Linked DNA regions of Homo sapiens: regions 1 and 3 are each linked to region 2. The links come from fine-mapping of genetic effects on gene expression. A gene starts in region 2. Each other region holds a variant in brackets. All regions are shown on one strand. Distances are from middle to middle.

What was found.
Region 1: its variant is fine-mapped to the expression of RNPEP in whole blood (INTERVAL, PIP 0.94).
Region 3: its variant is fine-mapped to the expression of RNPEP in anterior cingulate cortex (GTEx, PIP above 0.99).

Annotation. Positions count from the first base shown.
Region 1 is chr1:201,999,301-202,008,049 of GRCh38, reverse strand. It overlaps RNPEP (arginyl aminopeptidase), which reads right to left. Exons shown (of 11, transcript NM_020216.4): 6 at 8,035-8,148; 7 at 6,562-6,674; 8 at 6,283-6,391; 9 at 4,589-4,813; 10 at 3,554-3,696; 11 at 1,907-2,492. The coding sequence ends at 2,334. It overlaps ELF3-AS1 (ELF3 antisense RNA 1), which reads left to right. Exons shown (of 2, transcript NR_146472.1): 2 at 7,723-7,999. It overlaps MIR6740 (microRNA 6740), which reads right to left and starts at 4,926; the gene lies at 4,814-4,926. RefSeq lists an enhancer at 3,076-3,718. The variant T/C (reference allele first, on the strand shown) is at 4,057.
Region 2 is chr1:201,977,184-201,987,752 of GRCh38, reverse strand. RNPEP (arginyl aminopeptidase) reads right to left here and starts at 5,105. Exons shown (of 11, transcript NM_020216.4): 1 at 4,640-5,105. The coding sequence starts at 5,086. It overlaps SNORA70H (small nucleolar RNA, H/ACA box 70H), which reads right to left and starts at 9,292; the gene lies at 9,158-9,292. It also overlaps the pseudogene RPL10P4. RefSeq lists silencers at 1,629-1,803, 4,520-5,199 and an enhancer at 5,410-5,469.
Region 3 is chr1:202,008,606-202,019,174 of GRCh38, reverse strand. ELF3 (E74 like ETS transcription factor 3) reads right to left here and starts at 8,588. Exons shown (of 9, transcript NM_004433.5): 1 at 8,469-8,588; 2 at 7,876-8,046; 3 at 6,997-7,218; 4 at 6,739-6,831; 5 at 6,416-6,535; 6 at 6,139-6,228; 7 at 5,877-5,993; 8 at 5,151-5,346; 9 at 1,992-3,966. The coding sequence starts at 8,038. The coding sequence ends at 3,852. It overlaps ELF3-AS1 (ELF3 antisense RNA 1), which reads left to right and starts at 8,822. Exons shown (of 2, transcript NR_146472.1): 1 at 8,822-9,375. RefSeq lists enhancers at 474-1,242, 4,745-5,944, 6,754-7,688, 7,689-8,622, 10,349-10,569. The variant A/G (reference allele first, on the strand shown) is at 6,441.

The DNA.
Region 1 (8,749 bases), 21 kb before region 2:
AGAGAGCTATGGAGCAGGATGCCAGGGGCTTCCCAGTATTCTGTGATGGCAAAAACAACCCACTGGCCTCCCCTCTCCCCACAGAGCTTGCCCACACGGCAGCACAGCCTCATCTTTGGGATGGGAGAATGTCCTACAAAAGGACAGGCACATCCAGTAGTCCTGTCAGGTACCAAGGTGGTGAGTGAGGCAGGCTGCACAGCTCAGGATACCCACGCTATGTAATGGGAGACCCCACAAAGTTAGTGGAGTCACAGCACGGCTGTTAGAGGAAGGGCTTCCAGCCTTTCCTTGCACTGACCCTTCATGATTACTGGGCCTATTGGTGCTATAGGTTTTTGTACAGAGCAAGGAAAGATAGCTACTGATAAGCTAGATAAAAGGTTGGGGAGAGGGGGAGACAACTGGATAGCCCTAAAATAGTCCTTGCCAATAACATATTGCCAGGAACAGTCCTGAAAGAGCCACGGAAGCAGTTTGCTGTCAAAATGCCAGTGCCTGGAGAAGCTCTTCCGATACCGGGCCTCCAGATCCCTCACCTATGACCCACATCACCCTCTCTGATGGTGGAGCTGTGTGCCACGGGGCAGAGGCCTCTCCAGTCTACCACTTGGTCACCACTAGTCCCTTGCTCTTGCTGAGTGAAAGCAAATCGACTCATTCCCAACCCTTGTGCAGGGGAGGGAGGAAGCCTGTTCGATAACCTAAATCCGAGGACAGAGCAGAGCTGCGAACAAAGCCTGTTTCAGGGGTGCCCTGTATTTAAGAAAGGCAAATGAAACACACTAAATATTTCTTCCAACCCTCCCCTCATCCCACTCCCAAACCCAGATTGCTAACTGTTTAGGTCCCCATGTTGAGGCCAGGAAATCAGAATTTAGTGCTAAGTTCTAAAGACTTTACTGATTACCATTCAAATAGTTATCTAGGATCAAAGACAGGTGAGGCCCAGTGAAGCCTTGGGCATGGGCAGAAGGGTAGATAAAAAGTCATAAGACACTTTATTTTTATTTTTGAGACAGGGTCTCACTCTGTCACTCAGGCTGGAGTTCAGTGGCACAATCAAGACTCACTGTGGCCTTGACCTCTTGGGCTCAAGTGATCCTCCTGCCTCAGCCTCCTGAGTAGCTGAAACCACAGGAATGCACCACCACGCCCAGCTTTTTTTTTTTTTTTTTGAGAAGTCTTACTCTGTCACCCAGGCTGGAGTGCAGTGGCATGATCTCAGTTTACTGCAACCTCCACCTCCCAGGTTCAAGTGTTTCTCCTGCTTCAGCCTCCCAAGTAACTGGAACTACAGGTGTGAGCCACCATGCCTGGCTAATTTTTGCATCTATCTTTTTTTTCAGTAGAGATGGGGTTTCACCATGTTGGCCATGCTGGTCTCAAACTTCTGACCTCAAGTGATTTGCCTGCCTCAGCCTCCCAAAGTGTTGAGATTACAGGCGTGAGCCACCACGCCTGGCTTTTTTTTTTTTTTTTTTTTTTTTTTGGTAGAGATGAAGTCCTGCTATGTTGGCCAGGGTGGTCTCAAACTCCTGGGCTCAAGCGATCCTCTCGCCTCAGCCTCCCAAAGTGCTGGGATTACAGGCATGAGCCACCGTGCCCAGCCCATTTTTTTTTCTTAGTGATGGAAAAGATAATGGGAATGCTGCTGCAGATAGAGAATTCAGCTGCTTCACGGAGAACTGGAATGCTATTCCTTTTTCATTTTCCTGCACCAGCTGTGCCATTTTGCCATATTTTTTTTCATATGCATGTGTAGGACACCCACCTCCTTCACCCTGGCTGTTCCCTGAGGACAGGAAAATACTGTCATTCTCTGGGCCTCCCCCAGTGACCTTTCCTGAACAAACACAGTGAGGACCTCTGGTGGAAGAAATTTAATAGTCACTCAATCCGTAACTTAATTTTTGCTTGAAAACTTTATTAAAATAAGGATTAAACCTGAAAAAAGAACAATCAGAATGCCAGCCCTTTGCATAAAATCAGCAAGAAAAAGGACAGAAAGAGAAAAAAGAAGAGCATCAGTCCTCTCCACTTCTTCCCAGAGACTTAGGTGGGGAGGAGAATACCCGCTGCCCTGCAGTGCCTGCAGCCTGTAGCGGGGAGAGCTGTGGGCAGGTTCTCTGTCTCGGGGCTCAGTGGGCTATAGAGAAGTAAGTTCCCACCAGAGCAGAGGCCCAAGAGTCACAGATACCTAAGCTAGAGAATAGATTATCCTGAGGGGATATAAACTCCAGGAAGTTGATCAGGGAACAGGAATTTGGGAACAAACAATTATTCTGAAAGCCTGGAGAGCCTGAAGAGGCAGGGGCCATGCACACGAGCCTCTAACTGCCCTTGGGTGCCACGATCTGCTGGACATAGTTGACAACATTGCTGTGGAGCTGGGAGGCGGTGGATGCAAAAGTCTCCTTGGCGAGGGTCTGGGCCACCTCACTGCCACCCATCATTGCGTGGTACAGCGGAAGTGTATACTTCTGCTTCCCCTGCAAGAAACACACATACACATGCCTAAGAAGCTTGCCTGGTGGATCTGTCCAGCCCTGCTGCCCCCAGTGCCAGTCTAACAGCAGCCATGGCTAGGTGCTAAAAGGGATGTGGGCATCACAGCTGGAATGAGGAGCTTCTCATCAGAAGTGCTCTAATTCAGGCATCTTCTTGGGCGCCAGAGATCCATGGAGATGGATCTCAATACGCGTCCCAATCCATACTAACATGGGGACGTCTACAGTCAACAAAATGAATGAGTTGGGTGGACACAATGGGATTCCAGACTTCTGGAAAGGTGTAGGTGGTGAGCCACCACGTGAATAGCAGATATCAGCAGCTGCGGCACATAAAGCTCACAGCCGCATACGGTCCAGCTGCAGTCAAGCAAAGGAAAACCCACAGGTCAACCCACAGGTCAAATTCACACAAATATAAGCCAGCGACATCACAAGTTCCTAAAATCCAGAGCCTTGAGGAAGCCATCAAAGGGCTCAGAATATCCCCGAACAGGCAGGCAGCCCTGACTTTATGCAGAGCAATGCTTCGTCTCCGGTCCAGCCCCTCCCTGCTCCGGAATCTGATGACATTCAGTTCATCCTGAGAGCCCGGGGCCTTTCCCCAACAGGGCAACTTTCACATAGTGACAGAGGGTCTGGCTGCTGTCCCGATCATGCCCAAGTCACAGGGCAGCAGGGACCTATCCTCCAAGCCTTTGTTCCTCTTGCTCCGCCTCTGGCCCCTTTCCCTCTTGTGTTTCCCACATGACACTGTCACCCTCTTTCCCGCCTCTGCGTTGGCTCTGGCCAGCTTTTTTCCCTGGGGTCTCACCAGCTGAATTGCAGAAAGCACTGCAAGCCTGCAGGCCTCCTCTTGTCCCTAGGGCAATGCCTTCAAAGCCACACTAGTAAAGAGGCTGAGTGGTAGGGTCCTCAGGTCATTTGCCCCTCCCTCTGTGCCTCAGATGAGTCCTAGATGAGCCCTGCCCACATGATTACTTCACATATGGCCGAGTGGGTCCCAGTGTGCTTTCGGGAACAGCGAGGCAGGGGTCACCCACCTGGTTATGCAGGAACTCCTTCACTTTCCAGAAATCTTCCTGGTGGTCGTTCTTAAGGACGATTTGGCCCCATCGCAGCCGGAGCTCTGCATTCCGGGCATTTGAGATACTTGGGTATGTGTCTCCAAGTTTTTTCACATTCCCTGGAGAAGAGAAAGAAATGGTTTGTGGCTGGTCACGGTGGGTCACACCTGTAATACTAGAATTTTGGGAGGCTGAGGTGGGCGGATCACTTGAGGTCAGGAATGTGAGACCAGCCTGGCCAATATGGCGAAACCCCATCTCTACTAAAAATACCAAACAAAACTGGCCGGGTGTGGTGGCGCACGCCTGTAATCCCAGCTACTTGGAGGCTGAGGTGCTAGAATCAAGAATCACTTGAACTCAGAAGGTGGAGGTTGCTGTGAGCCAATAGCACCACGGCACTCCAGCCTGGTCGACAGAGCAAGATTAAAGCAGACATATTCCCCCAATATCTGTCCCATTTTTTCTCCTACCACTCA[T/C]CTGCTAAAAGTCATCTTGGCTCTAACTTTTTTTTAACCCCTTGGTGAATATTATGTTGACTGAGCAGCCACAAAGCATTAGAGGTTGAGAGCTCTGGATGACTGGGTTCTGTGCGAACTGTTTGTACCTCAAGTTCATTCTGTCACCTGGGTATTAACATCACACCGCCTACTTCCCAGAGGAGTTGTGGGAATTAAATGACTTAATAGACACAAAAGCCTTACAAGAGTCGCCTGCAGGAGCTTCGGACTTGAGCAATGCCAGGCTTTGTGACTTTGTCCTTGAGGTGCTTGTAAGTAGAACCCATAACCTCCCGATGGCACATTCCTTGTGGAGTGCCAGCCTCCCTAGTGTACGTGGCAGTCCCCTAACCCATAACCTCCCGGTGGCACATTCCTTGTGGAGTGCCAGCCTCCCTAGTGTACGTGGCAGTTCCCTAGGGGCAAGCATCACTACTTTTTGTGAGCCTCCCTCTAGCCCCTGACATAAAGCTGTGCACACAAGGAGCCCTGGTTCACCATTTTTTCTTACCAGGAGGGAGAGGGGATTTCTGGAGGATCTTATCCAGGAAGTAGACCAGCTGGTAGGTCTTCCAGGGAGAGATGGCCACGGCTTCAATGGCCTTCATGTCCAGCTCCTCGGCTGCCCACAGTTGGGCTAGCTCTTCAGCAGGCTTCATGAGTGAGTCCCCAGGGGAGAGATCAGGGAGGTACGGGGGCCAGCCGGGGGTATTCAGCCATCGATCAAACTCAAAACCTGTTTGGGAGGAGAGAAGACACTATCAGAATTCTCTGGCCAGGTTACGGTCAACTGGTTTAAGCAACTCCCAGAGACCTCAAGTTTCTCCTCTCTCCATCCCAAACTCTTTCCCCAGCATTTAACATTACTTTCCCATGTAACTATTCGCTCCAGCAGGGTCCTAGTTATAACGACATCTAGAGACTGTGCCGTTTCGACCGTGAAAGTGCTTTTCGCTCCAAATTAGCACTGTGTTGTCAGAGCCAAGTTGGTGGATGCTCTATTCACGTGCACATTCTCCTACCGATCACAACCACACTGTACTTAAGCACCCAGGCTCTAGGACCAGGCTGCCTGGGTTCCTACCCCTGCTCTGTCATTAACCAGCTGGGAGGCCACGGGCATGTTACTTCACCTCTCTGCACCTCAGTTTTATCTATAAAGTGGGGGTGATAGGCCCTGCCTCCGTGATGGTTATGAGGATTACATGAGCAAATAAACATTAAAAGCTTAGCGTATCGCCTGATGCATAGTAAGTACTCTGGAATTATTAACTACCATTAGCTCCGGAGTCCCCGCATTAAAATGCAAGCCTCCAACCGAACAGTAGGTGCTGCTAAAGTCCTGACCAATCCTACTGTCAGAGGACGCGGACTTCATCAAACCAACAATAGAGTGACTCAAGGTTCAGGTCACAGCAAGAAGTGGGGGTATGTCTAATGGATTGTGTCTTCCATGACAGGACATTTTTCGTTTTTTCTTTGGAAGTGGTACCTCCCAGGCAGAAACTGGCGGCTGGGCACAGCGGCTCACGCCTGTAATCCCAGCACTTTGGGAGGCCGAGGCAGGTGGATCACCTGAGGTCAGGAGTTCGAGACCAGCCTGACCAACATGGAGAAACCCCGTCTCTACTAAAAATACAAAATAGCCGGGCGTGGTGGCGCGTGCCTGTAATCCCAGCTACTCGGGAGGCTGAGGCAGGAGAATCGCTTGAACCCGGCAGGCGGAGGTTGCGGTGAGCCGAGATCGTGCCATTGCACTCCAGCCTGGGCAACAAGAGCGAAACTCCATCTCAAAAAAAAAAAAAAAGAAAAGAAAAGAAAGAAAGAAATAAGGAGGGCCACTGGGGTTGCCTTCACTCAGAAGGCTGTAGGAGGGGTGCTGCCTCCGCTCCTGCCCTGTGAGTTTTAGCTTGGGGCAGTGGTGCGGCAGCAGTGGCAGCTCTCCAGGCAAGTTAAGGGTCTGACTGTGTGTCCAGGTGAGAGGAGAGAGTAAGGAAACAGACTGGGAGAAAATGAGGCAGAGAGGAGTGAAAAGAAGTCATTCTTGTGGAATAAATCCCAGGATTCTGGGTTTGCTTCCCAAAACGCCCCTACCTAGCTGACTCTGACCCAGTGTTTTCCCATCCACCACCATCTTTCCGAGTGTCAATGAGATCTCATTCTCTACTATTTTTTAGAAGCCTGTGGGCCAGTTCCTCTGCTTACCTGGAATGATATCCACTCTCTTTTTCTTAAGCTCAGGGAAATATTCCAAGTAGAAGTCCAGAAAGTCATCGGCTAAGATGCTTCGGAATTTGAATTCATGCACATAGGCCTGTGAGGAGGGAAAGCTCTTTAGACCCTCTCTGGCCCCGTGGGGAGTGGTGTCCCTCTGTGTCCTGGGTCCTCCTCCAACCCCTTACATCTTTCGCCCCCTGCCTCTACCCTTGATCAGGCCCAGTGGCTTTATCCGCTCCTCTTCCTTCTCCCCTCATGTGACTATACCTTGAGAAAACTGTCAAACTGATCCTGATCACCCACCAAGTGGGCCAGGTATGAAACAAAGCAGAAACCTTTCTCGTAGGGGGTCTCATTATAGGTGTCGTCCGGGTCAACGCCTGGCAGAGGAGAAAGCAGACAAGATTTGAGCTTTTGTAGCCTGTCACCCGTAACGTTCTTCTCTAGCTCCACAGTCAAAGACTAGCGATGGAAGAGATCAGAATTCAGCTTCCCCAGGGACAGCAAGGCCAAGAAGGTGTCCAGATCCTGGCCTCTCTCCAGATCTTGGACTCTCTCAAGGCCAAGACTCTCTCTCTTAAGATCTCTATCTCAAGGCCAAGATCTCTCTCCAGATATTGGCCTCTCTCAAGGTACTTCCAAGATCTCAGAGGGCCATTCACTGTGGATCTAATATGAAGACAGAGAAACCAGCCTTCCAGAGGAGCGGACACATTTCCTTAGTCCCAGGATACACTTTGTGTGGGTAGGTTCCATCAGCATTTCCCACTGAGCACCAAGCTGTGTCTTTTCCATCCCTATTGGTCACCACCTAAATACTCAACCTACCCTCCCAGATCAATGTTTTTTTTTTTTTTTTTTTAAGACGGAGTCTTGCTCTATCACCCAGGCTGGAGTGCAGTGGCACGATCTCAGCTCACTGCAACCTCTGCCTCCTGGGGTCGAGCGATTCTCCTGCCTCAGCCTCCCCAGTAGCTGGGATTACAGGTGTGCATCACCACACCCAGCTAATTTTTGTATTTTTAGTAGAGACAGGGTTCTCCATATTGGCTAGGCTGGTCTCGAACTCTTGACCTCATGATCCACCCGCTTTGACCTGGGATTACAGGCGTGAACCACCATGCCCAGCCAATGTGTTGTTTTTACAGCTGTTCCAGGCTAAAACTAATTACCCGTCTCTAAGAAATTCATCTGCAAACTTAACGGCATCAAGGAACATGAGCTTCAATTGCATAAAAAGGTTTCAGATTAGTCACACATGGAATGAAGGAAAATGTTAGGAAGTAAAAAGATCTGAATTTGGAGAGAGGACCCGGATCTCAGTTGCAGTCATGCACTGATTAGGTACATGACCTGGACAAGACACTTAACTTGTCTGGCACTCAGTCCCATCCTCTGTAAAATAAGGCTAATGCTTTTATTCTACAGAATCCACAGATCTGCCCTGATGATCATGAAGGAATGCGAAAGAGCCTGGTAAAACGATATGGACTTGTGCAAATGCAAAGCAATGGTGAAGTCATCACGAACCGCACAGACTGGACAGAACTCCTATCTGGCTGCAATGGCTTGGGTTCAGTCAGCCCAGGGGCCAGAGAATTGGCTACAAAGAGCTCTGGAGTGCCCCTCCCTCCAAATAAAGTATTCTAAGCGTGCACTGATCAACATGAAGTTCGCATTAACTTGGGGCTCCAAGCTCAATTGAGGGGAGTGGGTGTCAGACAGAGGAGCCTCCTGGACCTGGTTCAATCTTCACGCGGAGCTTGTTGAGTGGGTTTTCCTCTCCAGTGATGTCCATGTGCTGACGCAGCAGAGCCCGCCCCGTTGCAGCCTCCAAGCAGGTGTACGCAGCGCCTGGTGCAGAATCAAACGTAAGCCTCGGGAAAACGTCTGTCACCACATCCAAGTGTATTTTCCTGACAGAGACACTGTGCTGCCTCCTTGTGGCCTCAAGAAGAACAGCGACAGATACCTGAAGCTTAATAACATTACCCTCCTGGGGACCCAGGGCAAATAGGGACAGTTACAGAGAGCCTGACTCAGTCCCTAGCTCCCTGTTGCTGTGGGCTACAAAGGACTTGGTTAACTCAGGCTGTTGGTCTCTCTCCTAAGTGAGGACTGGGGGAATCGCACCTTTCTGACAGTTACCTTTCCTTATCAAAGTACTGTATTTTTATTTTATCTTATTTCATTTATTTTATTATTTTATTTTTTGAGACAAAGCCTCACTCTGTCACCCAGGCTGGAGTGCAATGGCGTGATCTTGGCTCACTGCAACCTCCGTCTCCTCCTGGGTTCAAGCGATTCTTCTGCATCAGCCTCCTGAGTAGCCGGGATTACAGGTGTGCACCACCACGCCCAGCTAATTTTTGTATTTTTAGTAGAGAGGGGGCTTTACCACGTTGGCCAAGCTCAAACTCCTGATCTCAGGTGATATGCCCGCCTTGGCCTCCCA
Region 2 (10,569 bases):
CAAAGGGCAAATCTGGGTTGGGTGCAGTGGCTCACGCCTGTAATCCCAGCACTTTGGGAGTCCGACGCAGGTGGATCACTTGAGGTCAGGCGTTCGTGACCTGCCTGGATAACATGGTAAAACCCTGTTGCTACTAAAAATACAAAAATTAGCCGGGTGTGATGGCATGCACCTGTAATTCTAGCTACTCAGGAGGCTGAGGCAGGAGAATTGCTTGAACCCAGGAGGCAGATGTTGCAGTGAGCTGAGATCATGCCACTGCACTCCAGCCTGGGTGACAGAGCGAGACTCTGCCTCAAAAAAAAAAAAAAAAAAAAAAAAAAAGTAAAATCTGAATGATTTATCACAAAACCCAGTTTTTGCCTATAGCAAACAGCCATTCATTTACCTGGAAGAGGGGCAGGATGGAGCATAGGTCAGTAACAAATAGCATTTAGAATTTAGAAATGGATTCGATTACTCCAGGATGATTTCATAGGGGAAGAAAACTTTCTGGCTGGACCTTCAAAGACACGCAGGATTGAGATGGCTGGAAAGGAAGGGAGGAGACATTCACAAGGAGACGAGCAGCAACATGAGGAGAGGCATAAACAGATGCAGGCTCCAGATGCAGAGTTGGGGAGGCAGGCCTGGGCAAGTCTAATGAAGGGTTCTGAACACAGCAGTGTCTGAGACCTATTTTAAGAGGCATAAGGAAGCTACGTTGGGATGCTGGGTTTGAGTTTTTGTGTGTGAAAAATTTAATTAGTCTCCTTATAACAGGTACAGTGCAGTATAGAAAGGGATGAGAGAATAACTTCACAGTGGAGAAAGCTGATAATCACTGCTTCAGCCAGGGGACCGAGGTTAACGCTGACAGTCATAAATCATGTGGATACTATGCGCCCTCAATACCTGATGAAAATGGCACTTTGGCTGGGCGCAGTGGCTCACACCTGTAATCCCAGCACTTTGGGAGGCCGAGGCTGGTGGATCACCTGAGGTCGGGAGTTCAAGACCAGCCTGGCCAACACAGTGAAACCCTGTGTCTACTAAAAATACAAAAATTAACCAGGGTGGTGGCATATGCCTATAGTCCCAGCTACTTCGGAGGCTGAGGGAGGAGAATCGCTTGAACCAGGGAGGCGGAGGTTGCAGTGAGCCGAGATCACACCACTGCAGTCCAGCCTGGGTAACAAGAGTGAAACTCCATTTCAAGAAAAAAAAAAAAAAAAAAGAAAGAAAATGGCACTTTACCTCTGTGAATTGCCCCTCAAAACCCATAATCCCAATCTAATCATGAGAAAACATCAGATAAATTCCAATACAGGGTCATCCTACGCTATACCTGGCCAACACTCCTCAAAACTGTCAAGGTTGGCTGGGCTCAGTGGCTCACACCTGTAATGCCAGCACTTCGGGAGGTCAAGGCAGGAGGATCGCTTGAGGCCAGGAGTTTGAGACCAGCCTGGGCAACATAGGGGGACCCTGTCTCTACAGAAAAAATAAAAATAAAAAAATAAAAAACAAAAAACTGGCTGGGAGCAGTGGCTCATGCCTGTAATTCTAGCACTTTCTTTGGGAGGCCAAGATGGGAGAATTGTTTGTTTGAGCCCAAGCGTTTGAGACAAGCCTGGATAACACAGTGAGACCTCATCTCTACAAATAATAAATTCAAAAAATTAGCTGGGCGCAGTTGTATGCGCCTGTAGTCCCAGCTACTTGGGCTGAGGCAGGAGGATCACTTGAACCAGGGGGATCAAGGCTGCAGTGAGCCATGATTGTGCCACTCACTGCACTACGGCCTGGATGACAGAGCAAGACCCTGTCTCAAAAAACAAACAAACTGTCAAAGTTATATCAAAAACAAGGAAAGTTTGAGAAACTGTCACAGTCCCAAGAGGATACATGACAGCTAAATATAATGTGGAATTCTGGATGGCTTCCTGGAACAGAAAAAGACATTAAGTAAAAACTAAGGGAATCTGAAAAAACTATGGACTCCAGTATCGGTACTGGTTTATTAATTATAACAAATATATTATTATACTAATGTAAAATGATTCAATCTTGGTTAATAATATATCAGCATTGTTTAATTGTAACAAATGTGTCATACTAATGCAAAATGGTAGCAAGAGGGGAATCTGTGTGTATATGTGTATGTAGGAGGTACTGAACTGTATATGGGAACTCTCTGAACTGGCTGCTCAATTAAGCCAGGCATGTTGGCTCATGCTTGTAGTCCCAGCACTTTGGGATGCCAAAGCGGGCAGATGGCTTGAACCCAGGAGTTCAAGACCAGCGTGGGCAACATGGCAAAACCCCATCTCTACAAAAAATAACAAAAATTAGCCAAGTGTGGAGGTGGCAGGTCTGTGGTTGGTCCCAGCTACCCCAGCTACTCAGGAGGCTAAGGTGGGAGGATCACTTGAGCCAGGGAGGTCAAGGCTGCAGTGAGCTGAGATGGTGCCACTATACCAGTCAATAAGAATTGATCAATTGACTGATCATTGAATGCCATCAGTCAGTGATGTTTTTACTGATCAGCTAGGAAATGAGTATTTTTTTTTTTTTTTTTTAGATGGAGCCTCGCTGTGTCACCCAGGCTGGAATGCAATGGCATGATCTCAGCTCACTGCAACCTCTGTGTCCCAGATTCAAGCGATCCTCCTGCCTCAGGCTCCCAGGTAGCTGGGTTTACAGGTGTGAGCCACCACAACCAGCTAATTTTTGTATTTTTAGTGGAGGTAGGGTTTCACCATGTTGGCCAGGCTGGTCTCAAACTCCTGACCTCAGGTGATCTGCCAGCCCTGGCCTCCCAAAGTGCTGGGATTACAGATGTGAGCCACCACACCCAGCCTGGAAACGAGATTTTTAAAAAGAACAATGTAGGGAGCTTTTTGATCCCTTCTCAAAAAAAAAAAAAAAAAAAAAAAAAAAAAAAAAAAAGAAAGAAATACAAAAGTTAGCAGTAAGAGCTAACACAGCTTACTTACCATGTACCACGCACCATATTAACCACTTATGGAAAGACAACTCATTTAACCTATGTCAAGCACTTAGACTAGTGCCTGGCTCATCTTATTAAATATTAGCCATCATCCCCCCTCCACCAAAATTGCTTACTCATCATCTTTGCTTTTTTGTTGTTGTTGTTAAAACAGGGTCGCACTCTGTTGCTCAGGCTGGAGTGCAGTGGTGTTATCAGGCTGTGAAAGGAAAATCTCTTGGGCCCCCAAAATCACTAAAGAAAACTCAACCTGGGAACCGCTTAGGGCACACCTGCCTCCCATTCTATTCAAAGCCACTACTCTGCTCACTGAGATGGATGCATATCTGATTTGCTTCCTTTGGAAAGGCTCATCAGAAACTCAAAAGAATGTAACCATTTGTGTATCACCTATCTGTGATCCGGAAGCCGCTTCAAGTCTTCCTGCCTTTGCTGCAAGTTGTCCCACCTTTTCAGACCCAACCAATGTACTTCTTACATATACTGACTGATGTATCATGTCTCCCTAATGTATAAAACCAAGCTGTGGGCCGGGCGCAGTGGCTCACGCCTGTAATCCCAGCACTTTGGGAGGCCGCCGAGGCAGGCGGATCACGAGGTCAGGAGTTCGAGACCAGCCTGACCAAAATGGTGAAATTTTGTCTCTACTAAACAATACAAAAATTAGCCGGGTGTGGTGGCGCACGCCTGTAGTCCCAGCTACTAGGGAGGGTGAGGTACGAGAATCGCTCGAACCCACGACGCAGAGGTTGCAGTGAGCCGAGATCTTGCCACTGCACTCCAGCCTGGACGAGAGTGAGACTCTGCCTCAAATAAATAAATAAAAGATTAAACTGTAAGCAAGCAGTTTACTATGAAACTTGCAACCAACTCTACCTGAGAGATAACTGGCAGCCACAGCCTAAGGACTCTCCAGGAAGGATTTTCTGACTCTTACAGACATAAGCCACATAACTCCATCCTCTTATTTCCAATATTTGCCCCGTCCCGAAAAAAAATTAAAGAGTTAACCAACAGTGAGAAGGCCAAATTATTATAATGCTTATAGCACCCTAATTCCAGTTCTCACTTTTACTCAAATTCTTTCGTTAATCAAATCCAGGACTTCACAGGAGGAAACAAAAACAAAGATAAGAGCTTTAACCGTGGAACTAGAAGGCAACACAGAACAAAGAGCTAGATCAACATCTGGCTAATTCTAGAGCCACCATAAAGCAGAGATAAGGTGGCTGATAATCAGGTACCTCGGCCCAAAAGTCCAAGAGGGCACTAAGTGAAGTGCATGAACAACAGGTCATCTAGAAAGCCACGGAAAATGTTAGAAACGGCAGTGTGCGATGAGCGGGAATGCGGCGCAATCTGGACAAGCCTCCAGGGCCAGGGAGGAGACGCGGAAGGACGGAAAGGGTGAAGGATGCACCGCCCAGTGGCTGGAGGAAGTCCAGAAGGAAACCAGGCAGCCCGGGAGGAAAAGAGGAAGCAAGGGGAGGAGGCCTAGAGGCGGCGCGCGGGGAGTAGGCCCCTCTAGGGACGCTCTGGAAGGGTCCTCCCTGTCCCTCCTCCCGGGTGGGGTAGGTGAGGGTGCAGGGCGGCTGGGGGCCGGAAGGGCAGGCAGGCAGCGGCGGGCGCAGTCTGGGGCGCACTCACCCCGGGTCCCTCCCCGACGCGGTAGGTGAGCAGCACCTGGAGGCGCTCGGCGGCGCGGCAGGGCTGCGGGAAGGACACGCACAGGGCCTGGCCATAGTGCGAGAAGGGCTGCGTGTAGAAGCTCACGGGCTCCGCAGGCGGCTCCTCCGAGCCGGGCCGCTCCCGCCGCAGCGCCGCCGCCGTCACCTCCAGGCACGGGTGCGAGTCCAGCCGCAGCTCGGCGGCGCCCTCGGGCTCCAGGCAGCGCAGGTCCAGGACCGCGGTGCCGCTCAGCCCCCGGCTCCCTGCGCCGGGCCCTGGAGGCCCGAACTCAGCCCGCAGGTCCAGGTGCAAGTGCAGCAGCTCAAAGGCCCGGAAGTTGGAGGCCGAGGCCACGTCCACAGCCTGCGCGGAGTGCAGCGGCCGCCGGGCCGCGCCGCTGCCGGGGGAATGCTCGCCGCTCGCCATGGCCGCAGAGCCGTTGCTCACCGGCCGGGCCGCGAACCCGAGGGGAGCCCCGCCCCGAGCGCCGCGGGCCCGCCCCCGCCGCGCGGGCCCCGCCCCCGAAATCTGCTCCCGACCGCATCCCCTCCCTGCGCTTTACCGCCCACTCTTCTAGCTGCACCCGTGCCTCGGGACTTAGGACAAAAGAGGCCGGTGGGATCGTGTGGCCCACGTTTGCCCACCCATATCCTACTGAGGTGTTCCAGTCGTCCCGGTGGGGCACCCTTCTCTGCTGACCCTTCCTGCTGCCTCATCTAGGCAGTGGCGTGGACTGAGCCCTGGCTGGGAAGGTCTGAGTTCCAGATCTCACACCCTGCGATAGGCCAGTTGTTAGAACTGTGTGTCACCTTGGGCAAGTCGCACAAGAAACATGAATCTTCCCGAGCCTTTTTCTGCACCAGTATAATAGAGTCATAATATCTGTGTATCTCACGAAGTAATGTGAGAACTCTACCAGGTAACCTGTCTAACACACTCAGCAAACAGTGAAACCCTGCACAACTTCACGGAATTCACACTGGATCGAGCCTCGTCCCCCAGCAACTCCAGGCACGCCTATCTTTCTATTGTTGGGTTAAGGGACAGGAATCAGCACCGCGCAATTTAAGGCCTGGCTGTCCATCGCATGTCACTTCTATTTCCCTTACTGTATTGTACCGCTTATTGAGCTAGGGTATTCTCCGCTGAATACTTTGTTTCTCTTCTGTACCAGTGGGTTGCAATGGGCCTTCTATGAATAGGAGCTAATCAATGATGATGTTTTTACCGTTCAGCTAGGAAATGAGATTTTTAAAAAGAACAATGTAGGGAGTTTTTCATTAAGGGAAATAGTATTCCGTTCTGTGCTTCCTAGTTTTGTAGAGTTGAAATTATTTTATTTCATGAAATAATGCTTATGGTAGATAATGACTTTAATATTCCATGTAAGTTCAATGTCAGGGTTTTTTGTTTAACTCCAGAAACCTTAGAAACCTGCTTTTCTGTAGCATTGAGAACAGCGCTTGGTACATATTAGACGTTGAATACTCCTATCTTGAAATTATTCAGTCTTCGATGCAATGCACTTTTGCTGAGTATCTGCTAGACACCAGTTGTTAAGCTAAGTGCCTGGGGTACAGTTTGAATAAGTCCGGCACAATTCCTCTTCCTATGGTGTTCATAGCCTAACTCACATTTTAGCAGACGCACAAGAAAACAGGTCACGACACTTCCACGTGCTGCGCTTGATACGGGAAGAAAAGGATGCTGGGGAGCACAACGAAGAGATGCCTAGCCTGATCCTTCTAGTTAAATATTGACAGAGGAAGAGGATGTCATCCTTAGCTAAAGGGTAAAAGATTTTAGGCTGGGTGTGGTGGCTCACGCCTGTAATCCCAACACTTTGGGAAGCTGAGGCAGGAGGATCGCTTGAGCCCAGGAGTTCAAGATGAGGCTACGCAACAGAGGGAGACCCCCTCTCTACAAAAACATTTTAAAAAATTAGCTGGGTGTGGTGATGCACACCTGTGGTCCTGGCTACTCAGAGGATGAGGTAGGGGTATTGCTTGGGCCCAGGAGGTCAAGGCTGCAGTGAACCATGATCATACCACTGCACTCCAGCTGGGGCAACAGAGAAAGACCCTGTCTCAAAAAAAAAAAAAAAAAAGATTTTAGGAATTATATTATTTCCCCTTATAGCCTTACTTCTTCCTGGGAATACCAGGAACCTCATTTCCACTTCCGCCTCCCTGCATGGCTCCCACACTGTCTAGTTTGCCTCAGAACTGGCCTGTAGATGGCCTGTAATAACTTACAGTGGAGAGATTCAGGAATTCAGAGAATTCAGGATTGTAGAAAGGGGACACTGTGGGCACAGCCCACCTCTCCCCCAGTTCATTTTCATTATTTATTATTTATTTGTGAATGCTTAGAATGCAACATATGTTGGACATTTCAAAATAATGGCCACAAATTTTCCATTCCTGATTCTATAGATTTAAAAGTTACAGGGCCGAGTGCAGTGGCTTATGCCTGTAATCCCAGCACTTTGGGAGGCTGAGGCTGGTGAATCATTTGAACTCAGGAGTTCAAGATCAGCCTGGCCAACATTATGAAACACCATCTCTACTAAAAATACAAAAAATTAGCCGGGCAGTAGTGGCACACACCTGTAATCTCAGCTACTCGGGAGGCTGAGGCAGGAGAATTGCTTGAGCCTAGGAGGCAGAGGTTGGAGTGAGCCAACATTGCGCCACTGCACTCCAGCCTGCATGACAGAGTGAGACCCTGTCTCAAAAAAAAAAAAAAAAAACAGTAAAAAGTTACAATAAATTATTAGCAAAAATAAAAATAAAGCTACCTATAGACATGTTTTAGTTAAATTGAAGAAAACCAAGACATAAAGATCTTACAGCAGTGGAAGAAAAGAGACAGATTATCTACAAAAGAATGGCAATTAGAAATTGGACCAAGGTGCCAGGTATGTTGGCTCACACCTATAATCCCAGCACTTTGGGAGGCCAAGGCGGGCGGATCACCTGAGGTTGGGAGTTCGAGACCAGCCTGACCAACATGGAGAAACCCTGTCTCTACTGAAAATACAAAATTAGCCAGGCATGGTGGCGCATGCCTTTAATCCCAGGTACTCCGGAAGCTGAGGCAGGAGAATCACTTGAACCTGGGAGGCGGAGGTTGTGGTGAGCCGAGATCACGCCATTGCACTCCAGCTTCGGCAACAAGAGCAAAACTCCGTCTCAAAATAAGAAATTGGACCAAGGGCAGACCTCTCATTAGCAACATACAAGCTGGAGACATTATCTTCAAAATACTGAGAAAAAAAAGCCAACTGTCAAATTGGAATTGTATACCCAACTAAACTATTATTTGGTCATGTGCAGTGGCTCAAGCCTATAATCCCAGCACTTTAGGAGGCTGAGGCAGGAAGATCTCTTTAGCCAAGGAGTTCCAGACCAGCCTGGGCAACACAGGGAGACCCTGTCTTTATAAAAATAAATAAAATTAAAAATGAACTACTGTTAAAAAGTAAGGGAAAACAGATTTTTAGATAAAAATTGAGAGTATTTACCATCCATAGACTCCTAACGAAGAAATTCTAAAGGAATTCTTTTTTTTTTTTTTTTTGAGATGAAGTCTCGCTCTTGTCCCCCAGGCTGGAGTGCAATGGTGCGATCTCAGCTCACTGCAACCCCCGCCTCCCGGGTTCAAGCAATTCTCCTGCCCCAGCCTCCTGAGTAGCTGGGATTACAGGCGCCTGCCACCATGCCTGGCTAATTTTTGTATTTTAAGTAGAGACGGGGTTTCACCATGTTGGCCAGGCTGGTCTCGAATTCCTGACCTCAGGTGATCCGCCTGCCTCGGCCTCCCAAAGTGCTGGGATTACAGGCGTGAGCCACTGTGCCAGGCCAGGAATTATTTCAAGAAGGAAAGGAATCACTGAAGGAAAGAATGAGATGCAAAAAGGAACAGTGAGCAAAAAAAGTAGATAAATTTAAACAACTGTATAAAACAACACTAATAATATACTAATAATGTTTATGTGAGGGAATCAGGATAAAACTAAAATAACAGACTAAAAGTACATAAGAGAGAGGGGTAACTGAAGTTAAAGCATTTTTTTTTTTAGGTGGACAGAAAGTAGAATTTATTGGTGAGTATTAAGAGGGGGCAGCACAGTGGAAGCCCTCATGAGTGCAGGACCCGCCACTTGTCCAGAGGGCCATGATTGGGAATGTACTTGACCCATCTGGGATGAGCCGCTTCTCAGCCACCATGTCTTCAAATTAATTGGCATTGAACTTGGTGAAGCCCCATTTCTTTGAGATGTGGATCTTCTGGCGGCCAGAAAACTTGAACTTGGCCCTGCGCAGGGCCTCAATCACATGCTCCTTGTTCTGCAGCTTGGTGTGGATGGACATAACTTGGCCAATGTGAACCCTGGCCACAGTGCCCTGGGGCTTTCCAAAGGCACCTCGCATGCCAGTTTGGAGCCTACATTGGGGTAGTGTAAGGTCAGAAACATGAACATCCATCTGAAAGGACTGTCTCCAAGGTCCCTTAGAGCAACCCATACAACAAACAGGCTGCATACACTACCAAGGAAGCTGCTATTTACAGCCATTGCACACTGGGCCCCCATGAGGAAAGGAACTCAGTCGGCTTAATTGGCTGCAGGAAGTTAAAGCATTCTAAGCTCCTTGTATTATCAGATGGAGAGTAGGGATAAATGTGAGATCTTAAGTATCTGTATTAAAGTTTTAAAGGAAACCACTTAAGTAATATAAATTGAAGACAGTATATAACTCATAAGCCAATAAATGGGGAAATATGTAGTTTAAAAAAAAAAAGCAAAAAACTTGGCCGGGCACAGTGGCTCACACCTGTAATCCCAGCACTTTGGGAAGCTGATGTGGGCAGATCACCTGAGATCAGGAGTTTGAGACCAGCCTGGCCAACATGGTGAAACCCCATCTTTACTAAAAATATAAAAATTAGCCCGGTGTGGTGGCGGTAATCCCAGCTACTCAGGAGGCTGAGGCAGGAGAATCACATGAACCCGGGAGGCGGAGGTTGCAGTGAGCTGAGATTGTGCCACTGCACTCCAGCCTGGGCAACAGAGTGAGACTTTGTCTGAAAAAAAAAAAAAGGAAAAGAAAGAGTAAGACAGGATATTATTACTTCAAATCGAGGAGGCAGAAACCTGGGATGGTAAGTAGTTCACAAATACCTAGGTATAATTCACAAATACCTAGGTATAGTTCACAAATACCTAGGTATAAATTGCTTGTTAATGTTCTAGCTCACATGTTGGAGTATTATCTGTCTAATAATACAGTCTCAAAACAAATAAAATAAAAATTGGCTGAGCGCAATGGCTGATGCCTATAATCCCAGCACTTTGAGAGGCCGAGGCAGGTGGATTGCTTAAACTCAGGATTTTGAGACCAGCCTGGCCAACGTGGTGAACCCCTGTCTCTAAGAAAAATACAAAAATTAGCTGGGCATGGTGGTGCATACATGTGGTCCCAGTTACTTGGGAGGCTGAGGTAGGAGGATCACTTGAGCCCAGGAGATCAAGGCTGCAGTGAGCCGAGATCATGCCACTGCACTCCAGCCTGGGCAACAGAGCAAGACCCTGTATCAAAAAATAAAAAAATTAACAGAACACAAGGGAAAATGGACAAATTCACCAACAGAGTAAGAAACGTTACATGCCTCTCCCAGTAATTAAAGTAATTAACAGATCAGGGAATACTTTTTTTTTTTTTTTTTTTTTTTAGAGATGGAATCTTGCTCTGTCACCCAAGATGGAGTGCAGTGGCACAATCTTGGCTCACTGCAACCTCTACCTCCCAGGTTCAAGCCATTCTCCTGCTTCAAGCCATTCTCCTGCCTCAGCCTCCCAAGTAGCTGGGATTACAGGTGCGTGCCACCACGCCCAGCTAATTTTT
Region 3 (10,569 bases), 31 kb before region 2:
GTGCGCTGGTGTGTGCAAGTGTGTGAGGTTGTGAATACGGTCCATGCGAGTGTGTGAGAGCAGGCAGCGTCTGCAGTGCGTGCAGGGGCATGTGAGTGAGGGCTTGTGAATATTTATCTTTGTGAGTGTGAGTGTGTGTGACTTTGGTTCCCATGAGTGTGTATGAATGTGTGTGGTGTGTGGGGGAGGTAGTGGCCAGGGCAGGGAGAGTCACGGGGCCATTTAGCAAATATTTATCGAGCACCTCCTCTGTGCCAGGCGCTGTGCAAGGTGCTGAGGTGAGTAAGCCCCAGCACTTGCCCAGAGGTGCTCACAGCCCGGCGAGAGAGAGAGATGTGTAAACAGACAACAGCAGAGAGAGAGAGCAGATTGAAACCAGACTCCTCAGAAATGCAACCCCTTCACCCACTTCCCCCAGGAGAAGCCAGACTTCCCCAGAATTGGTGGGACAGGTGGGGCTGTGGGATAAGCCAGGAACTGTCCCAGGGGGCCAACCCCAGCCCCTCCTCAGGCACACCCAAACACGACGGGAGGGGTGACCTCCCTCTGACCTGCTCAGCGACACACCCAATCCCACAGAAGCAGATAAGAGGTGACCAGCAGCTCCGGCAGGGCGGGATATAAACAGCCCGGCCCTGTGGCTTCCTCCCCACCCCCACTCCCCAGCCCAGGACACACCTGAGGGGATGCAGACTCTGGTGGGCGAGAGACCGGGCCGTCTCCTGCTAGGAGGCCCCTGGGCTGGTGAGAGTCGGGGTAAGGGTGACTGGTGCCCGACAGAGAGGGCAGCACGGAGGCCAGCCCAGGGGCCCGTGCCAGGACTCTGCAGCATCCTGAGGGGTGAGAGGGCAGAGAACTGTTGGGGAGAAAGGCGTCCCTCCCAGAGCTGCCGTCTTCCAGGCTGTCCCAGGCGCTGCCCTGCAGAGGCCACCTGCCCAGGTGGTCTCACTGAGCTGCAGCGTGGAGGCAGGCATGCTGTGAGCTGGCCCCGCTCTCACCCAGTCAGTGACTTCAGCCCACCACTAGCCTTGTCAGTAAAATGGGGACACCTGGTCTCCTCAGCGAGCTGTGGGGCGGATCAAATGAGATAATGGGATGAGGAAAGCGCCTCATAAACTGCAAATGGCAGGGCAAAGGTCAGCACGCAGCGGGCAGCACCTGCCCCCAGCCCTCCAGAAGAGGGTGAAGGGGCTGAGCGCCATATTCCCAGCCCTCCTCCCTGCTAGGATCTCCTTTAGAAGCTGAAGAGGCTGGGAGTCAAGGGAGGCTGAACAAGCATGTCCCGGGCTCTAGAGGCCCCTCCCCCACTTCTTGGCTAGGTGACTTCAGGCCACACTGGGTCACCTCTCTTCTTTTTTTTGAGACAGAGTCTCCCTGTGTCACCAGGCTGGAGTGCAGTGGCATGATCTTAGCTCACTGCAACCTCCGCCTCCTGGGTTCAAGTGATTCTCCTGCCTCAGCCTCCTGAGTAGCTCGGACTACAGGCGCGTGCCAGCATGCCCAGCTAATTTTTGTATGTTTAGTAGAGACGGGGTTTCACCGTGTTGGCCATGATGGCCTCGATCTTCTGACCTCGTGATCCTCCCGCCTTGGCTTCCCAAAGTACGAGGATTACAGGCGTGAACTACCGCGCCCAGCTGGGTCACCTCTTTTAAGGGTGCAAGGACCCCGAGATATTGTGGCTAGGGAAACTAGACCAGAGTCTAATGCATAATTTCCAAGAAATGGGGTCATTTTTAGACTAAGTAGCTGTGAAAGCTTCCCCAGCTTCTGAGGCTAGACCTACGCCCTGGCCCGCATCCCCTTTGTCTAACTGGCTCACACTTCAGAAGGGAAATGTAAGTAAAAGCCTTTTTCCAAATGGCTCCAGGATTCTGGTTTCTCTCATGACCTCACTTTCCTCTCCAATCAACTTCCCCACTCTCCTTTTCCACCATTCCTTGCTTCTCCAGAGCAAGCTGCATTTCCAGAAATCCACACACAAGCTTTAGTTTTTCTAAGATCCCTTCTTTATCCACATCACTTCAGCCAACAATCTGATTGGTATTTCCAAGACAACAGAGCAGTATTTCAAACTCATGAATGGGATTTTAATGTGCTGTATGGAATTTGAAGCCTCAAACTTAAGGAACTTTCCACCTGGAAAGCATTCTTAAGTAACATCAATGAACTGTCCTCCCTAAAACCTAGACACAGTATCACTGTGGAAACAGAGTAATAGTTCTGGAATCGATTGAGGATTAGGTTAGAAGCGCCCACACCAGGAAAAGCTTCCGGGAAACGGTTTTAGGACAGAATCAAGGCACACCTGTGGAACCTCTTTCTGCATCTGTCAAATGGGGACGCTGTGTCTCCTCTCTTCTTAGGAGAGGATTAAATGAGCCAGAGTGGGCTAGCACAGTGCCTGGCATGAGACTACAGTTTCACTGGGTGCTATACTCACTACCTGGGTGACAGGATCATTCGCATCCCAAGCTCAGCATCACACAATATACCCATGTAACAAACCTGCGCACGACCTCCTAAATCTAAAGTAAAAGTTGCAATTAAAAAAAAAAGAGAAAAAGACTACACTTTCAACAAATGCCAACTCCTTCCCTCATTCTTTCTCAGCAAGTACTCATCTCCATTTTGTTTTGTTTTTTTTTTTTTTTCCTTTACAAGATCCTAACTCTGATTTTGTCAGACTCAAAAGCTGGGATTCATATTACAGATATACAGTTTACAGCACACTTGGCTGGAATGCAAAACCATCTATTCCACAAGGCCAGCCATGCAATTCTAGACATCTTGAGAACATCAGGTCCAAACCCTAGCCTAATAGGAAAAATCAGTCCTAAACAGGACAGACTTGGTCAAGGTCAAGGTCACTCGAGCGGTGTCATGACAGCAGGATGCTTCTGACCTCAGTGTTCTGAGTTCATGTCCTTGCTTGCATGAAGTCTTGTAAGCGTTCTCCAACAGTCTCAGCTGCTTCCTTTGCTCGCCTCCCAGCCCAGTCCATGTGTCTGTAAGCCCACACCTGCTACAGGAAATCTGTAACTCCCCTCTTCGTCAGCCTTTGCCCTCACCCTCAGCCTGGTAGACCTTCATTTTCCTCCCCTCCAACCTCTTGACCATATTCGATCCAAAGGCCCAAATTTCAGTACACAGGTAGCTAAGACAAAGGTTAGAAAAAGCCCAGAAGGCACTTTATTGGAGGTCTCTGCCTCCATTCACAGGAGAAAGGAGCTGGGAGCCCCATCCTAAGGGTCCCAGCATCAGCCCACTGGAGGGCCTGGAACAGTCCAGCACTCTGTGGGAGAGGAGTGGGGAGGGGAATGTTTTAGAAAAAATAGATCTCTATGTACATCTGACATATTTATATAGCACATAAATTAGGGAGTGCTCTGACCCCTGCCCGTGGAGCCCAAGCACTGAGCAGGGAGGTGAACGCCAGTCCAGAAAGAAGGTGCTGGAGCCCCTGCTCTGTCCTCTCCATCACGGTGCTCCCCTAGGGCCTCCCCAGGCCTCCTTGGCTCAGTCCAGGTGTCTGCAGGAGGAAGGTGTTGTCTGCATTTAGTGTCTGAGACTGGGTTTGAGGAGGCACCAGATAAAAGGAGATACACTTGCAGCTATAAAGTCAGCTTCAAACCCCAGGGCTTGTAATTCCAAGAGGAGGGTGGGGAGGCGAGGCCATAGTCTCCGAGTCCCAGGACGATGGCTGACAATACACCAAAACATCAGCTTCTCTCCACAGCACAGCTGGGAGCATTCCCCAGTGGAGGGGCCATCTGGCCTGCCTGTCCTCCCAGGAAGGTTTGCAGGCCTCGAGTGGTCCGTGAGTTTGGTCCCGGGTATAGTTCCAACCCTCAGTTCCGACTCTGGAGAACCTCTTCCTCCTTCCAGCCGCTTGAGTTTTTGCCAAACTTGTAGACGAGTCGCCGGCCATCCACCCGTTCCAGGATCTCCCGTTTGTAGTAGTACCTGGGTGAAGAGAAGGATGGTCAGAGGTGCTTTGGCAGGAAATGGGCCCCAGGCTGCCAGCCCGCCCACCTGGCCCGCGTTACCCCCAGGTAACCCATGCCCACTGGTCTCTGCCTGACTAAGCTGAGCCTGACTCACACTTCCTAAACTCCTCTGTTCTTCACACTGGCAAGCAGAAGCTCTTTCCCTACACTGGCCTGTAACCGTGCCCAGGACACAGGGCTCTTTGCCTTTGCTTCTTTGTATCCTATGGCTGTGACTGGGGTCTGATCATTAAATTACATGACTTTTAAGGCCAGGGAGCTGGGCACGGTGGCTCACACCTGTAATTCCAGCACTTTGGGAGGCTGAGGCGGGCGGATCACTTGAGGTCAGGAGTTCGAGACCAGCCTAGCCAACATGGTGAAACCCCCGTCTCTACTAAAAATACAAAAATTAGCTGGGCATGGTGGCAGGTGCCTGTAATCCCAGCTACTTGGAGGCTGAGGCACAAGAATCACTTGAACCCGGCAGGCAGAGGTTGTAGCGAGCCAAGATTGTGCCACTGCACTCTAGCCTGGGTGACAGAGCGAGACCCTGTCTCGAAAAATAAAAAGAAGAAGAAGAAAAAAGAAAAGGCCAAGCATACTGGCTCACACCTGTAATCCCAGCACTTTGAGAGGCCGAGGCAGGAGAGTCATTTGAGGCCAGGAGTTTGAGACCGGCCTGGCCAACGTAGAGACCCTTGCCTCTATTTAAAAAAGAAAAAGAAAAAAAAAGTAAGTACATGATTTTAGGGCTGGACGGGATCTTAAGATGATCTAGTGTACTCCTGGACACAGGAGGAAACTGAGGCCCAGAGAAAAACAACCTAAGTGCTTCAACGAGGAGAAAGCCAGGCCCTGGGTGGGCACGGCTCCTGCCCCCTTTCCCACTCTCCAGGTGCCTTCCTGAGGACAAGCCTCACAGGCGATACAAGAAATGTTGCTGCTAGCTCAAGTGCACTGTGTCTGCTGTCTGCCAGGCTAATACTTTCTCCATGTTGTCATTTAATCCATGAAGTAGACCAACCCAGATGTTGTCCTCACTCTAAGGACTCAGCCCTGTTGCAAGAAGCCAAGTGGCAGCCAGAAAGAGGGCGGTGGGAGTGTGAGCGCCTGTCCCCATGTCCGGCTGTATCGTGAGGGTCCTGGCCGCCAGCTCACCTCATGGCCCGGCTCAGCTTCTCGTAGGTCATGTTGCTGTTCTTTTTCTTTTGGCCCCATAGTTGGGCCACAGCCTCGGAGCGCAGGAACTTGAAGACGCCTTCATGCCGATTCTCCCACTTCATGAGGCCCTCGTTGAGCTCCGGGTGGATGAGGATGTCCCGGATGAACTCCCACAGGTGGGTGCCTCTGGGCGCTGCAAGGCCAGCCTCCATCAGTTTGCCATCCAGGTGTCCCCTCTCACCCAAGGCCAGCCAGCCCTGCCCGCCCCAGTGCACTGCTGACTTGGCCACAGCATGCAGCAAGCCTCTCCAGAGACCCCGCAGTGCCCTCTGTGCGGGTACTGCAGTGACTGCTTTTCTCCTCAGCCCACCTAAGACCCACCAGCTGCCTCCTCACATTGAGGGTGTCCCAGAGGGCAGGACAGTGGCCAAGTGCAGAGAGAACTGGAGTCAGTGGACAGGACACTGGAGTCAGTGGACAGGACTCTGGTACCATGAGCCTCCCACTGGGAGCCTTATTTCCTCCTCCTCTCCAGGACCACCAAGCCAGGCTCTGCAATTAGGTGGTGACCGATACCATAGAGCCCCCAGCTTGTGCACAGCCTTACCAAAGGCCATGCGGAGGCCAGAGAAAACGGGAGAAGGGATACCTGCAACAACCCGCAGTGCCCCAGGAAGCCGCTCAGCCCGGCGCAGGGAGGACCCACGTGCCCCCGGAGCTCACCGTGCTTGCTCTTCTTGCCCTCGAGACAGTCCCAGTACTCTTTGCTCAGCTTTCGGGGCCGGCCTCGTTTCCGCTTCCCGTGCTTGGGATCCCCCTTCTTGCAGTCACGAAAACCATCTGTGGGGACGGTGGTGGAAGGTCAAGGAGGGGCAAGAGGGGAGTTAGGGAGAGTAGCCCCTCTACAGGAAAAGGCTGCAGGAAGAGCCGGGCCCCCTGTGCATTGCTAAATGGGACGCCCTCTTGGGGACCTCCCTCGACTCACCGCTGGGGAAGAGCTTGCCATCAGTGGGATCCAGGTCCACGTCACTTCCACCGGAGTCTGAGGAGTGGGAGCTCCGAGAAGCACCAGTCCCTGGGGGGCGGGGTCAGAGTAAGTCCCCTGCCGGCCCACCCTCTGCTCAACCACGCTGCTGGCTCTCAGGACACACTTCCCAGCCTGTTCCTGTTCCTGCCAGAAGGCCTGAGTTATGGTGCTGGGAGCCAGAGGGAACAAGGGACACTTCGGGGAAGGGAGGTTGTGGCCCAGAGAGAGCTCTCACCTGCGGTGGAGACGTCAGAGCTGCC[A/G]GGGGAGGGGGCTCCTGCGCCACAGCTGCCGGGGTGGTAGGGGCTGGCTTGCTGACCGTCGTCCAGCAGCTCCTGGGCAAAGGGGCTGCCCTGGTCTGGGAAGAGGAGGTGAGAACTCAGAGAGGGCTCAGGGGACCAGACCAGGACAGGTGATGCTGCCCATGGGTCTGATGACCTGCTGCAATTTTTCTAATTGAGGGAGGAAGAAGTCTGGGGAGGGGGTCATCTCTAGCACTCTGTGGAGGGGCAGGGATGGGACAAGACAGGCTGGGGAAGGAAGGAGAAAACGGGTTCTCACCAAAGGGCCCTGGGTCTAGGGCCTCCTGGAAGGCCATGCCATCCTTCTCCAGCAGCTCAATGATCCAACTGAGCTCATCAGAAGAGCTGGAAGCTGACAAGGAAGGAAGGAAGGGTCACACTCCCCTAATCCCTCCCTCAAGGGCTCTCTCTGGCTGTGCAGCTGGCCCAGAGCTCCAGGGCCTGCCTACGGCCACACTGAACTCGACTCAGCTCAACATGTGGAGCTGCTCCCCAGCCTCCAGGGGCCTGGACTCACTGAGGTCTCGCAGCTGGGCATGGAGTTGGTCCCCCAGAGGCCCAAAGACCAGACGCAGCTCCTCAAGGGCACAATTGCAGAGGGTGGCGCCATCCATGTCACATCGTGAGAAGTCAATGGCGCTTGCGTCGTACTTGTTCTTCTCCACTTGGTAGCTGATCCAGTCCAGAACCTGCGTCTTCGACCAGAACTGGGGCTGTTCCCCCAACCAGCTGGCCTTCTCTGCAAGGGCCAGGCAGGGAAACAGGCTCAGCTCAGGCCACCCAGCAGACCTTACAGCCCCATTTTTTTTTTTTTTTTTGAGATGGAGTCTCACTCCTGTCACCTAGGCTGGGGTGCAATGGCACAATCTCGGCTCACAGCAACCTCCACCTCCCAGGTTCAAGCGATACTCCTGCGTCAGCCTCCCCAGTAGCTGGGATTATAGGTGCCCACCACCACGCTGGGATAAATTTTTTTTTGTATTTTTAGTAGAGACGGGGTTTCACCATGTTGGCTAGGCTGGTCTCGAACTCTTGACCTCAGGTGATCCGCTCAGCTCAGCCTCCCAAAGTGCTGGGATTACAGGCGTGAGCCACCACTCCCAGCCCACACAGCCCCATTCCTGGAGCACACTGGGGATTCACACCTCAGCCCTTGGAGCCATCCCAAGAGTAGGGGCAGGAGGTAGCATTCACAACACCCTTGTCCTGGTATCTGACACCTCCCTCTGCCTGTCACAGCCCCACAACCCCCAGCACCTCAGTCACTAAGTCTCAGCCTCTAGCCCTGGAATTTGCCTAGAGACCCTCCTCCCTGCCTATTCCCCCATTTGTCTAACAGGCCCTTAGATGGATCTGTCTCCCACTCCGTGCCCCATCCCACCCCGCTGAGACCCACCTGTACCCTCCAATGACATCTGGGGGTTGCTCAGGGTCAGTACCAAGTCATCGGCCCCAAAGGTGGCAGCAGGGGGAACAGAGGCCAGGGTGGAGTCCTCCGAGCTGTACATCGCACTGAAGTAGTTGCTAAAAATGTTGCTAATCTCACAGGTTGCAGCCATGAGGCTACCTGTGGGTAGGGGGAGAGAGGATGAGGTTGGTGAGGGGACGAGGGTCCTCTCCTTACACTCCCAGCTACTCTGCTTTGCCCAACCCTGGGCAAGAGTAGCCCCCAGGGGCAGGAAGATCAGCAACTCTGCGGACACCGTCTCTTCAAGAAGGGCTCCAAGATCTCAGACCAGGGCAGGACCACAGGAGCCTCCAGCTGGGCTTCCCTCCTCAGATCTCTGGGGCCCTGGAGCCAGACTAGCGGCGTCATGGCCATTCTGCCTTCCCAGAGACAATCTCTCTCTGTTCTTTGACCCTCAGGACACCTACGCTCTTGCTCGGAGATCCTAGACTGGAGTGTGCAGGTTCAGAACTGCAAATCCTCTGGACCCCTCTGCAGTTTCCCAAGAGCTGGGCTAGGGAATGACAGGCGGGGAATCCTACCGGAGTGGCGGAGTCCGGCTGTGGCAGGCAGGCCGGCAGGCGGGAGAGAAATCCAGTTCCGCCAGGTAGCGCTGAGGTATCTGGCCGCTGCGCTCCCCTACCCGGCTCTAAATAGAGCCTGGAGGGAGCTCCTCCCTGAGCTCAGGGCTTTATAGTGTGTCCCCTGCAGTAACCTGAGCTGGTGTCTCATTGGATGGAGGGGATTTCCTGGCCTTTAGACTGGGCTCCTGGCCCCAGGTGATTTGCATATTCAGTGCCACTTGGCCCGGATCTTAGCAGGCAGTGCTGGGAAATCAGGCCCGGCTGGTTTAATGATTGTCAGAGTCTGTCATCCCGCACCCTCTGGGGTTGGGCACGGGGCACTGGCCTGGGCAGGTGGCGGGAACGTTGCTGGGGTGGGCATCTGTGCTTTCGGCTGCCCTCTGGCCCAGGAAATTCCTCCCAGGGGCCAGGCCAGAGATGGGCCAGGCAGGGGGAGGGCAAGTGAGGGAACATGAACCCCTGGCTGACCTGAGTCAGAAAGCTGCTGGCCCCTAAATTCCAGAGATTCAGCAACAAAGAGGCCTAGTAGGGAGAGGAGTTACTAGGTTTAGGGGTTTTTCCCAGAACACCCAGGACTCTGGCCAGGGGCTGGAAGGTGCTCCAGGCTCAATGCTGGGCAATACTCATGGATTAATTGGTGCTGGCTGGGCCTGCCAGCCTAGTCGTGGCCCCAGGGTCCCCACTAAAGGGCTCCTTCTCCAGCGCCCACTCTGTTGGCAAGGTCTTCACTACCATCACCTGCCTGGACTCCATCCAAGCATCAGGGTTGCTGCAGTCGCTCCTGAAGAGACCCGGCTCTGCTTGAAAGTTCTTCCCTCAGCGCCTGCTGGAGCCCTCCCTGCCGGAGTTGCCAGAATCCACACGGGTAAGTTCATCCCTGCTCTCTGGACCCCATCTAATCTCTGGTTCACTCGGCCCAGTTTTCCAGTACCTTCTGCTGCCCTCTAGTGGTCAGAAGCCTGACTACCTGGGTCACGTCATTCAAAGAAGAGGGAATGCATAGTATTAATATATTTACCAAGCACTTTTCAACATATTCTCTCATTTAATCCTCACACCAAAAAAGTCCTGTAAGGAATGCATGGTTATTCCCATTTTATAGACATGAAAGTTGCAGTGTGGAGGGTTCCCTTAGAATGGCTTGCCCAGGCCACACAGAGTTGGTGAAGGGGTGGAGCTGAGATTCACATCCAGGTATGCAGGTGTGTTGTACACAAAACCCTCGCTCTTTCCCTGCACAGGATTCAATGTCTTCGGGCTTCAGAGTCTTCCCATCCAGCTCCATGGCCAGAGCCCTTGCCTTCCCTGTGGGCAGAGTCCCCCATGTCTGTGGTTGTCTCTATGGACTCAGCCCGAAACACAATGGATAGTGTCTTATAGACCCTTCTTGAGACCCTGAATGGGGTAATACAGGTGGTTGAGGCAGGAGACTTGTAGCCAGCATCTGCAACTGTGTGATCTTGGATGAGACCCTTGGAGTCTGTGCTTGTTTCCCCATCTATAAAAAATGAGGTTGTCTGAATTTAATAATCCCTAAGATCTCTTCCAGATCTAGTATTTTGTTTATTTTGTTTTGAGGTGGAGTCTCGCTCTGTCGCCCAGGTTGGAGTGCAGTGGCGTGATCTCTGCTCACTGCAACCTCTGACTCCTGGGTTCAAGCGATTCTCCTGCCTCAGCTTTCCGAGTAGCTGGGATTACAGGCGCCCGCTGCCATGCCCGGCTTTCTGTATTTTTAGTAGAGACGGGGTTTCACCATGTTAGCCAGGATGGACTCGATCTCCTGACCTCATGATCTGCCTGCCTCAGCCTCCCAAAGTGCTGGGATTACAGGCATGAGCTACTGCGCCCAGCCCATATCTAGATTTTTATGCATTTGAAATGTAGGATCCGGTGGCTCACACCTGTAATCACTGCGTCTCAAAAAAAAAAAAACAAAAACAAAAAAATGTAGGATCTGTGTGACCCCCCTCCATTAATGCACAACTTGGGGAGTTCCTGGCCACCCTCAGCCAGGGTGGGTGAAACGGTTACTCAAACAAAAGGTGACTCCACCTTCTAC